Linked DNA regions of Homo sapiens. The protein of the gene in region 3 purifies or fractionates together with the protein of the main gene of each other region. This does not show direct contact. Each region holds a gene or a part of one and is shown on either strand. Other genes may lie near its edges.

Evidence for each region. The genes of interacting proteins can lie anywhere in the genome.
Region 1: the proteins of ZSCAN20 (region 3) and SERPINB3 purify together in Homo sapiens (affinity purification with mass spectrometry; 3 studies listed by BioGRID and IntAct, with this or other methods). This does not show direct contact.
Region 2: the proteins of ZSCAN20 (region 3) and PPL purify together in Homo sapiens (affinity purification with mass spectrometry; 3 studies listed by BioGRID and IntAct, with this or other methods). This does not show direct contact.
Region 4: the proteins of ZSCAN20 (region 3) and SBSN purify together in Homo sapiens (affinity purification with mass spectrometry; 3 studies listed by BioGRID and IntAct, with this or other methods). This does not show direct contact.

The regions. Positions count from the first base shown.
Region 1 is NC_000018.10:63,659,094-63,663,382, reverse strand, and holds the start of SERPINB3 (serpin B3), read left to right. Parts: upstream 1-1,489; 5' UTR 1,490-1,537; intron 1,538-2,140; 5' UTR 2,141-2,166; coding exon 2,167-2,331; intron 2,332-2,526; coding exon 2,527-2,583; intron 2,584-3,855; coding exon 3,856-3,984; intron 3,985-4,289. UniProt on the Homo sapiens protein: May act as a papain-like cysteine protease inhibitor to modulate the host immune response against tumor cells. Also functions as an inhibitor of UV-induced apoptosis via suppression of the activity of c-Jun NH(2)-terminal kinase (JNK1).
Region 2 is NC_000016.10:4,895,649-4,899,148, forward strand, and holds part of PPL (periplakin), read right to left. Parts: intron 3,473-3,500; coding exon 3,365-3,472; intron 2,123-3,364; coding exon 2,027-2,122; intron 933-2,026; exon of another isoform or gene 69-932; coding exon 1-68. UniProt on the Homo sapiens protein: Component of the cornified envelope of keratinocytes. May link the cornified envelope to desmosomes and intermediate filaments. May act as a localization signal in PKB/AKT-mediated signaling.
Region 3 is NC_000001.11:33,486,145-33,489,644, reverse strand, and holds part of ZSCAN20 (zinc finger and SCAN domain-containing protein 20), read right to left. Parts: intron 1,181-3,500; coding exon 994-1,180; intron 532-993; exon of another isoform or gene 531-531; coding exon 454-530; intron 128-453; coding exon 43-127; intron 1-42. UniProt on the Homo sapiens protein: May be involved in transcriptional regulation.
Region 4 is NC_000019.10:35,525,512-35,529,641, forward strand, and holds the start of SBSN (suprabasin isoform 1 precursor), read right to left. Parts: upstream 2,801-4,130; 5' UTR 2,771-2,800; coding exon 1,133-2,770; intron 1-1,132.

The DNA.
Region 1 (4,289 bases), on a different chromosome or scaffold from region 3:
TAGTGAAATTGTTGTGGAACGAGATCATGATGGTGATAGCACAACTTTGTGAATATAATAAAATCATTGAATTGTACAGTTGAATTTGTGGCATATAAATTATATGTTAAAAAAGGGGGTCCACAAAACAAACAGCCCCCCACTCTGGTTGTCAGGGAGATATTGGATTAAATGGCCTTGGACAACAACCCTCTCCCTGGCCACAGACATTCTTCAGATTACAAGATATTCCAGAGGAAACACTGGAATGAGTCTGAAGCCAGGTGCTAAATGGAAGGACCACCAAGAAACGTTGTGATCCTGACAGGTCAAGCAACTTCTTTTTCTGCTTAATTTTTAAATGAAAAATTAGAAAGCTGACATTCAAAATGGCCCGTCTGTTTCAATTGCTCTTCTCAGTGTCAGCCTGTTAACTCAATGTGTTAGTCTGTTTTCATGCTGCTGATAAAGACATACCTGAGATTAGGAAGTAAAAGAGGTTTAATTGGACTTAGAGTTCCACGTGATTGGGGAGGCCTCAGAATCACGGTAGGAGGCAAAAGTTATTCTTACATGGTGGCTGCAAGAGAAAATGAGGAAGAAGCAAAAGAAGAAACCCCTAATAAACCCATTGGATCTCCTGAGACTTATTAACTATCATGAGAATAGCACAAGAAAGACCGGCCCCCATGATTCAATTACCTCTACCTGGGTCCCTCCAACAACATGTGGAAATTCTGGTAGATACAATTCAAGTTGAGATTTGGGTGGGAACACAGCCAAACCATATCACTCAGCAAGGCAGATAACTTTCTCACTGAGCCTATGCAACAGAAAACCATCTGGGATGGTTGTAAGGGGCACAGGAAGTGACTGGTAGGATCACTGCCAAAGCTGAGCATTCAGGAGAAGGCAATAGAATCCTATTCTCCATAGTATGCTATAAGATACTGAAGTACACTTCTTCACTATCTCTTTGGACTTAGAATTAGCACTATATTCCTTGTTATACAGAAAAATTACTAAGGAAATTCATAGGATGACAAAAACTTTCAGAACTGAAAAACAGGAAATGTAAGCTTTTTAGTTCTTTGGTATTCGAAGTATGCCTAAAAGACAATGCAAAATCCAAGAAAAGAATGGTGGGGTTTTTGTTTGTTTGTTTTTGTTTTTGTTTTACAGCTGGAGTAGAATACAAAGGGATGGAGTTGAAACAAATGAGAGGAAATTGGAATTCTAAACTTATTCTCATTGGCATTAGAAAGGCACCTACATGTATTTCACATGAGCCGGTGACTGCTGACTTGCATTCTTATTTTTTCCCTATAGATTAAAAAGGAGGTACAATGGTAGAACTGTAATCCTGTCCTTTGTCATAAATTTTCGTATTCATAAAGGTGAGTGTTAGCCCGCTTGTGAAATCTGAAGTTGAGTAACTTCAAATACTAACCACAGAGGGAGAGGCAGCAAGAGGAGAGGCATAAATTCAGGATCTCACCCTTCATTCCACAGACACACATAGCCTCTCTGCCCACCTCTGCTTCCTCTAGGAACACAGGTAAGAGCTTCAAGCCTCTCCAGCTTAATAACATGAATTATTTTTGAGAATAATAATGATACTGTGTTCTATATCATGCATCTCCTGCATTCTGTCTGATTATATTTTACTTATTCTGCCAGAGCAAAATTAAAATACCTATTTCATCTGATTTGTCCTTTATCTAAATTGCTTAGTTCCAAGTAAACCAAGGCACTTTTAGGAACACAGAGGGAGAGTGCCTTGCAGCCAGAGAGTCTTGAAGGAGATGTCAGGGACGCATCTTAACAGCTGGTTGGATGTGATCCACAGAGGTCTCCTGTTAGCATTCATTGTAAAGCCTTCCTACCTAGCCCTAGTGTAGCCAGCAATGAAGGAAAGAGGGTCTATTACTTATTTACAGTAGTCTTTAAAAACACTAATTTTGTGAGGCTTCTAATTAAGACATTAATATATTTAATATATGCACATTGTAGAAAGATTGAAACGTTAAAAATAAGATGAGGAAAACTTTAAATGTCAAAATCTCACAACACAGATATATAATTTCTTTAAGAAAATTGTACTACAAAATACCATTCCATTTATTAAAGTCATTCTGACAGGAATCTGATGCTTTTCCAGGAGTTCCAGATCACATCGAGTTCACCATGAATTCACTCAGTGAAGCCAACACCAAGTTCATGTTCGACCTGTTCCAACAGTTCAGAAAATCAAAAGAGAACAACATCTTCTATTCCCCTATCAGCATCACATCAGCATTAGGGATGGTCCTCTTAGGAGCCAAAGACAACACTGCACAACAGATTAAGAAGGTAGCTATCAGCATCATTATGTTGTCCTGTTGCAGTTTTTCTCTGGTTCCGTCGGCTAGCACGCAGATGGTAATAGATGTGGTGGTCTGATGGGTAGCACAGGGGGCTGAGCAGGAATTCCCGTAACTGTGAGACCACTGACTTAAACAGATCTTTTGAGTAAAGTTTTCTTGTCCCGCTTCATGTCTCTTCCAGGTTCTTCACTTTGATCAAGTCACAGAGAACACCACAGGAAAAGCTGCAACATATCATGTGAGTCACAGAGCACTATGGTTCAGCTTTAGATCCCCGAACAGGTCATAGTTTGAACCTGGAACTTCACAGAAACTAAGAAAAGGCCATTTTTAGGGAAAATCTTGGACACAAAGATTGAGACATACAGAGTGGGTTGGCATTTCATGGCACATAATTATTATTCCTCCTTTCTTCGTTACTGAAAGACAGTCAGCACTGTACCTCAGAGCATAGGTCTGGATCAGGATAGGCTAGGTTCAGACTCCAGCTTTGCTCTTCACAAATGGTGAACATGAGCAGGACACAACTGCTCAGAGTCCCAGTGACCTCATCCCAGAAAACTAAGGGTAATAAGAAATCTGACTCAATACATGCAAATACATGCAAATGTTTACAACATTGCCTTGCCCATAAAATGTCATAATAAATGTTATTATTATTATAAAATAGCTATAATTATACTAATCACAATAATGTTGCAAAATATTTAATTTTCATTGAGTCATTAATGAGATAAAGAGGAATAAGCACAAGTCCAACTATATTTTGGAAAATGATTGCTATGGAATATATTGGTTTAGAGCCTTAATAGTGCAAAATGCTTTGCTGGAAAGTAGAAGTTTCTAGATTTAAACAGGCTTAGGTTCAAAACGTGGCACTTCTAATTTATGTCTCTATGAAGAGGTTTACTTTCCATTCTCTGAGCTTTCTTGTTTTCACCTGAATTGAACTAAAGACTTAAAGTTACCCATGTAAAGTCCTTAGCCATGTACCTGGCACACACTCTTCTTACGTGCAGAGAATGACCATCATGAGGAAACAGTCACAGATCAGTCAATGTGTCCTACAAGATAACAGCACCAACAGGTATAACAGGGCTTCCTGGCATAATCTATTTAAAATATCCAACCTTCAACATACTCATATCCTTGATGACTGTTAGAAGTGAAATATGGTCCTTGCCTTTAAGGAGCTGAGAGTTTAACTGGGAAGCTAAACCTAACCCTTTAAACCAACAAGGACAAAATCCAGTGGTAGACAGTGCTGCATCTATAGTTCAGAAGAGAAAAGATTGCAGTACATTAGAGCAAGAAGAATTTCCTGGAAGAAGTGAAACATAAGGTGGATTTTGAAGGGTATTTGAGGTGAAATACACCAAGTATCAGGGAATAAGCTCAAAGGTCCTCATTGAGACTACCAGCCATTAGGGACTGATCTAACAGACTTAGCATGGGTTTAGTATTTACATTGATACAGCAATTGAATGATCTCCTTTTTTGATGTTTGAAGGTTGATAGGTCAGGAAATGTTCATCACCAGTTTCAAAAGCTTCTGACTGAATTCAACAAATCCACTGATGCATATGAGCTGAAGATCGCCAACAAGCTCTTCGGAGAAAAAACGTATCTATTTTTACAGGTAATTTCACCTGGCCTACCCACATTTCATTTGCATCCTGATGTCTGTGTCTCTGAGTGGCCAAATGGAAGAAAGCAAGGCAGATGAGCCTGACCGATCCAGGTGGAGAGCATTTACTCAGAGTGCAATAGCTCCGTTTCCACAACTCTCCCCCACTGGAGTGTCCCAGACCCTAACAATACATCACTGAAGTGTGGATTTAGGGATAATCTTGTAATAAAAGAGGAGGTTGGGTAATAGAGTGAGTAAGAGTAATAAGTAATAAGATACCATCGATAAACTGGCACTGACTCAGTCACATACGA
Region 2 (3,500 bases), on a different chromosome or scaffold from region 3:
TACTTCTGGTTCAGGTCCGAGTCCACCTTGCGCAGCAGCTCCTGAGCGTCCTTCACGTCTTCGTGAAACTAGGGGAGAAGGTGGCTCTGTTACAGCCAGGAAACCACTAGAAGCACCTGGGCTTCTGTCGGAGGCTTCAAGCTCATCCCTCAGGCGGGGCTGGGCCTCCGGTTCACCTGGAGTCCAGCATGGGACCCTGTGCTGAGCCTGAGGCTCCTCTGCGTGGAGACAGCCCCACCCTCCCTGAGCTGGCTCCTTAGGGGCCTCACTGGGAAAAGCCAGGTCCCTTCCCACCCATCCATGAGATGCCACCTCTGTGACATGTTTTCTTGGATGTATCAGTAAGTCTTGAGGTGTCTTTGATTCAGTTCCTCTCTCTGTACTAGGAACATCCAGACTTAATACTATAGCTTCTTTCTAGGTTTTGATAATAGCCTCCCCTTTTTGTTCTCGAAAATTCTCTTGCCCATTCTTCAGTCTATCAACTCTTGGTTCACTGTCAGCTATCCCCTGGGCTGAGCACCTGGGCTGCAGCCATAAACAGGACCTGAAGCCCCCACTGTGCGGCTCAGACAGGGAATGAGGAGTGACACGGCGTCGCCCACATCCAGCTTTCCCCAGACACCTCAATCCTAAGAATTACCCGCAGCTTCTTAAGAACTCTCATTCCTCTGGAAACAGACAAGTGTCCAGCCACAGATGAGTGGATAAACACAGTGGTCTAGCCATACAATAGGATATGATTCAGCCATAAAAAGGGGTGAAGCACTGAAAATGCTACAACACGGATGAACCCGGAAAACATGATGCTCAGTGAGAGAAGCCAGACACAAAAGGGCAGAGATTGCATGATCCCACTGATTCTTCATATTCGTTCTAGGTGTGACACTTCTGGAACAGGCAAGTCCATAGAGACAGCAAGAAGACCAAAGGTGACCTGGGGCTGGGGGAGTGGGAATGGAAAACTTACTGCCTAATGAGTACGGGGTTGTTTTTTTTTTTTTTTTTTGAGGCGGAGACTCACTCTGTCGCCCAGGCTGGAGTGCAATGGCGCGATCTCAGCTCACTGCAACCTCTGCCTCCTGGGTTCAAGCAGTTCTCCTGCCTCAGCCTCCCATCTGGGACTACAGATATGGGCCACCACACCTGGCTAACTTTTGTATTTTAGTAGAGATGGGGTTTCATCATGTTGGCCAGGCTGGTCTTGAACTCCTGACCTCAGGTGATCCAGTCGCCTCGGCTTCCCAGAGTGCTGGAATTACAGACATGAGCTACCGTGCCCAGCCAGGGTATAGGGTTTCTGTTTGGGGTGATGGAAAGTTTTGCAAGTAGATGGTGGTGATGGTTGCATAACATTGCGAATGCAATGAATGCCACTGAATTGTACACTTAAAAATGCAAACTGGCCGGGTGTGGTGGCTCACACCTGTAATCCCAACACTTTAGGAGGCCGAGGCGGGAGGATCACCTGAGGTCAGGAGTTCGAGACCAGCCTGACCAACATGGCGAAACCCCATCTTTACTGAAAATACAAAAATTAGCTGGGTGTGGTGGTGGGCACTTGTAATCCCAGCTGTTCAGGAGGCTGAGGCAGGAGAATCACTTGAACCCAGGAGGTGGAGGTTGTAGTGAGCCGAGATGGCACGACTGCACTCCAGCCTGGGTGACAGGGCAAGACTCTCTCAAAAAAAAAAAAAAAAAAAAAAAAGGCAAATTTTGTTTTATGTATCTGCATGTATATTATAGATTTTACCAAAATTAAAACCCTACACACTCACCCTGGGCCCCATGTGACCTGGGGAATCAGACTCTGGCCCTGGTCCCCAGGGAAGTTGGACAGGGGCCGGCAAGCTTGGGACATGTCTGCACACGCCATCAGAAGCATGGGTGCTGGGGGCCTGGGATGGCTGCCCCGCAAGGCTCCTGGACCAAGGAGCACGAGGCCACACATGAGCCAGGTAGGCACTGAGCGCTCTCAGAGAGTAGCACCCCCGGTGCTGGGGGGACTCCCAGGAAAGGTAAGTACCTGGTGGTAGTCCTCCATGTACTTGAGGTGGCTCTCCTCGCAGATGAGCAGGTTCAGGTACTCCTTCCAGTCTGCGTGCACAGCCTCCATGTGCGCCTGCCAGGAAGAGAAGGGGCCGGTCACCACTGGGCAGGTACTGCAGACACCAAGGGAGGGACTGCTGGGATATTGGGCTGGGGCATGGCGGGGGAGGGAGGCATCTGGCATCTGTCTGGGTGTGGCTACCACAGGGGTAGCCAGCTTCTGCTCAGGAGTGGGAGGAGGAGAGAGGGGTCACGTCAAGGAGCCAAACAGGGATGCCACATACGGATGCCCAGGCTGTGCAGTGCACAAAGGGCAAGTGGGGGCTGTGGTGCCTTCGGCAAATCTGTACAAAGGCACTGTCATGGACCGAACAGTGTCCCACCAAATCCATGACCCTGGCCAGGCATGGTGGCTCACACCTGTAATCGCAGCACTTTGGGAGGCCGAGGCGGGTGGATCACCTGAGGTCAGGAGTTTGAGACTAGCCTGGCCCACATGATGAGACCCTGTCTCTACTAAAAATACAAAAATTAGCTGGGCATGATGGTGTGCGCCTGTAGTCCCAGCTACTTGGGAGGCTGAGGCAGGAGAATTGCTTGAACCCGGGAGGTGGAGGTTGCAGTGAGCCAAGATTACACCATCGCACTCCAGCCTGGGCAACAACAGCGAAACTCCATCTCAGGCGGGGTTGGTGGCATTGTGGGGGTTGGGAAGAATGCGACCTTATTTGGGAATAAGATCTTTGCAGATGTCATTAGTTAAGGATCCTGAAATTAGGGTGAGCCCTAAATCCACTGACTGATATCCTTATAAGAAGAGAGGATACAGAGAGACATGGGGAGAGAAGGCCATGTGAAGACGGAGGAAGGGACTGGAATGATGCAGCCACAAGCCAAGGGCTGTTGGCAACCCCCAGAAGCCGGAAGAGCAAGGAAGGCACATGTCCTGGAGCTTCCAGAGGGAATGAGGCCCTAAGACACCTTGATTTCAGACTTACAGCCCACAGACCTCTGAGAGAATGAATTTCTGTTGTTTAAAGCCACTAAGTTTGTTTTAACTTGTTGCAGCAACTCTAGGAAACTAATACAGACCCCACAGGGGCTTCAGAAGTCCAGGGGCTGAGGGCAGAAGTGTCAACGGATCAGGATAAATGGAGGAGGCAGAGTCAGACACAGCAAGAAAGAGACAGACAGACACAAGATGCAGCTTGCAGGACCCCCAGCTCCGGGGTCTGCCCGAGCTCCAGGCGGCCCACAGGCAGCGGCCAACCAGAAGCCACCCTGGGGGAGGTGTCTGGTCTCGGGGTGCATGAACCTCAATGGAGTTCCTCCCGGGGTGCTCGGCCGCCAGCAGCTGGTCGCCCTCGCTGTGCAGTTTGTTGATTCTCTCCTCTTTGGCCTCCAGGTTCCGGTTGATGAAATTCTGCAGTGGGGGGCAGTGGAGGGGCCTC
Region 3 (3,500 bases):
AGAAGCATGACAACATCACCTTCAGAGGGTACGTCTCCTTACCCAGGCACACGCTGTTCCCACAGTCGTCTCCTGGGGGGTCTTTACAGAGCTCCTTCTCAGCATGTTTGCCAGGGCCCAGGGCTTCCTGCGAGATGCACAAGACAAGGACCCCAAACATCACTGACCTTTGACAACAGCCTAGGAACCCTAGCAGGCTCCCAGGAAAGATGATGGGAACAGAGGGATACCATGTGTGAAGCTGGCATCATAAGGAGCAGGATGGCCATTTGGTACATACATGTGTTTGGGGATGTTTGGGGCCCAGCAGGCTGGGGGTGAAGGGCAAAGGCTAACACCCTGGGCCTCATGCCCTTTTGCTGAGCAGAGGTCATGGAGAGAGAGGAGGAACACTGTGGGGGCAAGAGCACAGGAGCAGCAATGACAGGAAAGGAAGAACGAGTAACAGCTTACCTGGGACTCAGCTGTCACCTCCCAATCTCCAACGCTCCCCATCTTTGGGAGAGTAGGGACTCGGGGAGTGAGGACAGCTGAGGAAAAGAAAAAGTCACTGAAACCCAAGCTCTGGTTCCCAAAAAATCACCTCCCTTTGAGATTGGCTTTCCAAAAGTAACACTTGGATCAAGCTAGGGCTATCCCTATGGCCAGTGCAGACTTCCCCTTTACTTCCCTTCTAGAGTGTGTAGCTCCTAAGCTGCTGTGAGTGGTGTGCCATGTGGGAGATGCCAGCCCTGACCTCCTGTGATCACCACCCACCCCTGTCCCAGCCTGCACCTGCTGCAGGACTCCAGCTACAGCAGGGCATGATGACATCATCGATAGGCACAGCCTCTTTACGAGGCTTGCTTACTTCTCAGTAAGTGTGCCCACCACACTGCAGCCTATCCCTTGCTTTGAATTCTGCACATCCTTCTTCCCCATGCACCCTTCCTCACCTCCCATCCCTCTCCCCTGCAGAAGGCCTCATTCCCTAATGTTCTCAGATGTACTCACCACTCTCTTTCAAAGGCTGTGGTGCCACCTCGGCATTTAGGTGATTGGGAAGGTCAGGGCATGTATTCTTCACCCCCTTCTTCTGGGACTGTCCCTCAGGCCAGGGATCCACTGGCTGCAGCTGGAAGCTCTGAGCTTCTTCCCCTGTCTTTAAGGGCCTGGTCTCTTCTGTATGCAATTCCAGTCCCTACACACAAATAGTCAAAATTCCCAATCAACAATTCAGTAAGACCCACTTTGGTATTTTGAGTACAACTGCAGTCCAGAGGCTAACAGGCTCTTTTAAGATCCAAAATGGCTTGAAATAGGATGAGAAAGCCATCAGAGTGAGTTTGGTAGGTAGACCAGCATTTATACCACCAAATGAGTACCATCTGTTGAACACAGGGTGGCGATCCAAGTGTTTCAATGAGAGTCCCACTGTTCAAAACATTTTTGATTCATAAAGAGATAAATTATGTAAAATTTGTGTAACATTAAAAAATAACCCATAAGCATCAAAAATAGGTTGCTTACTTTTTAAATGATCAAAAAAAGATAAAAGTTATCAAGTTGTATATTAAAAGGCAAAGGGAGGCATAAAAACAGGAAAAAAATATAAAATTATAACCCCAAATGCAATTGCTCTAAATATCTCTGCTGAAAGAGAAAGATATTTTTAAAATAAAATTTTTAAAAAGGACAAAGAATTACAGATGGAGGCTGGGTGCAGTGGCTCATGCCTGTAATTCTAGCATTTTGGGAGGCTGAGGCAAGGGAATCACTTGATGCCAAGGGTTCAAGACCAGCCTGGGCAACATAGCAGACCCTCACCTCTATAATAAATAAATAAATAAATAAAATTAACCAGGCATGGTGGCACATGCCTGTACCCCCAGCTACTCAAGAGGCTGAGGCAGAAGGATCACTTGAGCCCAGAAGTTTGAAGTACCAGTGACCTATGATCATGCCACTGCACTCCAGCCTGGACAATGGAGTGAGAACTTGTCTCAAAAAAAGAAATTAGATGGAATTTTAAAATGAGATAAAAGTACGTGTTGTTAATCTTACAATAGAAGGACATGCAAAAGACAAGGCACTCTAACTCAAAAGGAAAAAGGAAGTGGCAATTTTCATTTCAATGTTGGATTTCAGGCAAAAAAAAAAAAGGTACTCAGAGATATAGATATTTAAAATAAAAGGGAGTAATCAACTAAAATAACATTACCCAATCAACTTCATCAATCACACAGCTAATTTCTTATCTCTATTTCTCAGCTGGTTCCAAGTTCACAGGTAGAGAGGTCAAGGTGTTACCCAGGCTATAAAACCTCCAAAATATAACAATCTCAATACTTTATAGAAACACCTAACTTTTAAAAACATATTTCAATTTTTTTCAATAGATAATAGACTCACATGGTTTAAAAACAGAAAATACATACATGGGTATATTCAGTGAAAATGCCCCACCTCCATCCATCTTCATCCCATCGACCCCGTTCTTTTCCCCTCTCCTCATCACAGGTAACTATGCTCTTCTGCATTCTTTTAGAGTTTCTTTCTACATACAAGCAAATGTAAATGTGTATTCTTAGCTTCCCTCTTTTTTATACAAAAACTTATGACTAGATATACTGCTCTGAGTCTTATTTTTTTGAACCAAAATAATAACAACTATCTTCATTAAATTACTGAGTTTGCCAAACTTAGCTCCAAAACTTTTTTGGCTGGCCTGAAAATTCAGATCCACTCACAGAGAAGGATTTTTACCATTGAGAAGACATATAGGAATGGGCCATGAGCATCAAGGGCCATTCCAAATAAGAAGATCCACCAGTGTCCTGTGTGACTTCACAGGGAGAAAGCATCTGCTTATCAATCTTCTTATATGGTCATGTTAAAAAAAAATTCACTTTGTTATCATTATAACCTACAGAGGAACTGTGTGACTAAATTCAACAACAATCTTTACTCTCAACCCCAGTGCCTCCAACTATTACCATCCCTAAGCAAAGATTCTGATTCCATGGATGGTAATTTTGGACACAGAAAGAAGTAGATTCAAGTGACAACCAGGAGACAAAAAATTAGTAGGTCAGACTTCTAGTTTCCAAGAAGTCTGTAGTCTACAAGTTGCCCCTCTAGACTCTACAGTAACAAGTAAAAAGCTGAACAAACTGAAAAATCAACAACTCTCCTTAGATCTGTCAGAGAAGTGAGGTCACAGGGCAAACCATTCTCCCCAAAATTGGAGAGACAAACAGGTAGAATCAGAGAATCACAACTTAGTGGAGCAGAAGCCTCTGTGGGAACCAGTTCCAGGGGAGAAAAACCTAAACTGTAATTGATGAACTGCTGGAAGGTCAGTGTGGACAACTCTGAGAGGTAAAAACTCCAGGGCACTTAATCACTGAGCAGGGGCACATTTTTGTAAGTTTTATCTCCAGGAGCTCAACCAGACCCTCACAGTGAATATCAGAGAAAAATCTCTTCATGCTTATGGCAGATGGCAGGAAAAAAGAACC
Region 4 (4,130 bases), on a different chromosome or scaffold from region 3:
CGTCTGAGCCAGTCACATCTTGCAGATCCAGGACCCCTCATGGAGCCTGGAGAGTGAGGGCGCACAGGAGTCCACCCTCTCCTGCTCCCCACGCTCCCTTCTTGGTGCCTGTTCTGTTGTGAGTGGTGCTATTTGCCTGCCTCCAGTCTCTGTTCCCTCTACATATTTTATTTTATTATTATTTTTTTTGAGACAGAGTCTCACTCTGTTGCCCAGGCTGGAGTGCAATGGTGCAATCTCAGCTCACTGCAAACTCCGCTTCTCGGGTTCAAGGGATTCTCCTGCCTCAGCCTTCTGAGTAGTTGGGATTAGAGGCGCCAGCCACCACACCTGGCTAATTTTTGTATTTTTAGTAGAGATAGGGTTTCACCATGTTGGCCAGGCTGCTCTTGAACTCCTGAGCTCAAGTGATCCACCTGCCTCGGCCTCCCAAAGTGCTGGGGTTAACAGGCATGAGCCACTGAACCTGGCCTCTGTTCCCCCTACATAAATGGGTAAGAGAAACCTTCCAGAAAACCTCTCCTGGCTGGGCAGTGCAGGGGAAGAGAACCCTGGCCTGCCCTCTGCCAAAGCTGGGCACTAGCCACAGGACTTTGGCACGTCCCCTAACCTCTCTGAGCCTTTGTTTCCTTATCTGAGAATCAGGGCGTCAGCAGCCTCATCTTGACCACATCAGAGGGTAGTTACAAAGATTACACAGGCCAAGGCTCATCTCCGAAAGCTATTCCTCATGCTCACTCTCCTAACCAGGTTTTGTCAACACTCAGTCCCTTTGCACTATACTAGATCTTGATCTCAGGAACTGTTTCCCATTCCCCAGGAAGGGCTTCATGGGCCCCACTTGAGGCCCCCTTAACCAGGAGGGCAGCTCCCTGAAGGTGGGACAGGGTGCCCGCCACCCTGTCTGATACGTGCTTTGCAGATAAGGTGGCTCACCCCATCTGACCAGCTGCCACCAGCTCCTTTGTAAGGGAGATGGGGAAGGGGGAGGAACCCAGTGATATAGCTGCCCAAGCTTCTTTCACCAAACAAAGGCTACGCGGACCCCCCCGCCCCGCCAAATGTCCCAGGGGTTTAACCTTTCCCTCCCCCAACCCCCCTGTCCCCCATCTCCCCATCCCTGTTCACCTACATTCAGCAGCTGGTTGGCCTCCTTGCTGGCTTGGTTGACCCCATTATGAGCATTCTGCAGCTCCTTCCCGGCCTGGCCAGCAGCATGGTGGGCACCTTGGCCAAGCTTCTCCACTTCCTTTCCAGCCTGGTCAGCAGCATGGTTGACCCCTTGGCCAAGTTTCTCTGCTTCCTTCCCAGCCTGGTGGACCCCAGTGTGGAACCCTTGGACCGCTTTGTCTGCTTCCTTCCCGGCCTGTTCAAGGGTATGGTGAACTCCCTGGCCAAACTGCCCTGCCTCCTTCCCGGCCTCGTGGACCCCAGGTTGGACACCATGAACTGCTATGTCTCCCTCTTTCCCAGCCTGCCCTGCTGTGTGGTGAATGTCGTGGCCAAACTGCCCCGCCTCCCTTCCAGCCTGACTAACGCCATGATGGAGGCCTTGGACCACTCTGTCTTCCTCCTTCCCCACCTGCGAGGCAGCATGGTGGACACCCTGGCCAAACTTCTCTGCTTCCTTCCAGGCCTCATTAACCCCATGGTGGACCCCATGGCCGAGCTTCTCTGTTTCCTTCCCAAACTGACTGGCAGCATGGTGGACCCCCTGGCCAAACTTCTCTGTCTCCTTCCAGCCCTCACTGAGACCATGGTGGACCCCCTGGCCAAACCTCCCAGCCTCATTTCCGGCCTGCCCCGCAGCATGGTGGGCCCCCTGGCCAAATCTCCCTGCCTCATTTCCGGCCTGCCCCGCAGCATGGTGGGCCCCCTGGCCAAACTTCTCTGCCTCCTTCCCAACCTGACCAGCAGTATGGTGGACCCCCTGGCCAAACTTCTCTGTCTCCTTCCAGCCCTCACTGAGACCATGGTGGACCCCCTGGCCAAATCTCCCTGCCTCATTTCCGGCCTGCCCCGCAGCATGGTGGGCCCCCTGGCCAAACTTCTCTGCCTCCTTCCCAACCTGACCGGCAGCATGGTGGATCCCCTGGCCAAACTTCTCTGTCTCCTTCCAGCCCTCACTGAGACCATGGTGGGCCCCCTGGCCAAATCTCCCAGCCTCATTTCCGGCCTGCCCTGCAGCATGGTGGACTCCCTGGCCAAACCTCCCAGCCTCATTTCCGGCCTGCCCTGCAGCATGGTGGACTCCCTGGCCAAACCTCCCAGCCTCATTTCCAGCCTGCCCTGCAGCATTGTCGACTCCCTGGCCAAACTTCCCTGCCTCACTTCCCGCCTGGTTGGCCCCGTGATGGACCCCATGATGGATCAGTTTGTCTGCCTCCTTCCCAACCTGTCCAGCAGCGTTGTTGACCCCATGGCCAAGCTTCTCTGCTTCCTTTCCTGCTTGTCCAATACCATGGTTGATCTCATGGGCAACCTTGTCCATGCCGTGGTTGAGCCCCTGGACGCCTTTGTCCAACTCCTTGCCGGTGTGGCTCCCCATGTTGCTAAGTCCGTTGAAAACCTTCTCCACTTCCCTTCCGGCATGCGTGATTCCACTGTTGATGCCATCCAGGGCCTTGCCCACCTCTCTCTCTGCATTGCTCAGCCCTCGGTTGATCCCTTCAATGACCTTCTCAATGGGGTCATCGCTGGCCGCCCATCCAGACAGGGCCCCCAGTAGCAGAAGGAGGGAGCAGGAGCCGACCAGACGTGCAAGATGCATATTGCTGGGAAGGTCGGGAAGGATGCAGAGAGGAGCCAGGGAAGCCACGCTGCTATTTATCCTCTCTCCCTCTCGCCCTCTTCTCCACCCCTCATGACTCAATTACCCCTGTGAGGCACTGAGTTGGTCTTCAGTCAAGGAGGTGTTTCCCAGGGAGATTTGGAGTTGAGCAATGGAGAGGAGGAGGAAGAGAGGGTGAGTCATGGATGGAGAAGAACTCTGGCATCTTTGCTCCTTGCCCTCCACCCCAGAGATGGGTGTCTGCCCTTCCAACCACCTCCTCTTTCATTCCTCACCCACTGTCCAGGCCTCCTCTCTCGCAAACCCACCTTCCACCATGCTCCATCCCTGGGATGCAGGCAATTCTTCAACACCTCACTCCTCTCAGGCATCTAAGCCTCCAGCTCCCCAGGCAGTGAGGGGCTAGAATGATGGGAGGCACCGTCTGGAGAGGGGAGAACACTAGGTGGGATGAAGGAGTCATCAGACCTCGTTCTTGTGGGCCAGCCCCTGCCCTCACTCATTCCATTCCAGCCACACAGGCCTTCTCCCTGTTCCACAAACACACCAAGCTCATTCCTGCTGCAGGGCCTTTGCACATGCTCCTCTCTCTGCCTGGAATGCAGAACCCAGATCTTCACGTGGCTGGCTCCTCCTCATCCGTACTTGACTTAAATGCCAACTTCGCAAGAAAACCTCTCCTGACCATAACATGGCATTAATTATACTCTGTAGTATCACCCTTTTGTTTTCACAGAAAAAAAAAATCTGAAATTACCTTTATTTTTTATTGCCTGTCTCACCTACTAGCAATGTAAATTGGTCGTGTTGATCACTGCTGTATTCCTAGCTTCTTGAACACTGCCTGGGGTTCAGTAAATATTTATTGACTGGACAAATGGATGGATTCGAACAGGCCAAGGAAAGAGACTCCGAGCCCGAGTCTGGGTCTCACAGGGTGCTGGAGGGAAGGGCGCCTGGGTCGCCAGGGCAGCATAGAGTCCCTTGTGGAGTGCCGCAGATTTTGGAGGCAGGATCCCATTCCTGTCGCAGAACCCAGACCTCCTGCCTCCCAGCCCTTGGGCAAGGGCAGGGGGCTGATTGCCACGAGCTGGAACAGGACGCAGTGTCTCCTGAAAAGCCGGTTGAGGCAGCCACGGGGAGGGGCCGAAGACCCAGGGCAGCAGGAGCCTGTGAGCCAGAACCTGGGCTGGGGCCAGGCCCTCATCCTTCCTGCCCTCCCGACATGGGGCCTCCTAAGCCCCAACCTGAAGCCCCAAGTGTTGACATATTGGCTCGGGTTGGAGGGGAAACAGCTGAGAGTCTGGCCTCAGGCATGAAAAGGGCATCGGAAGGAAGG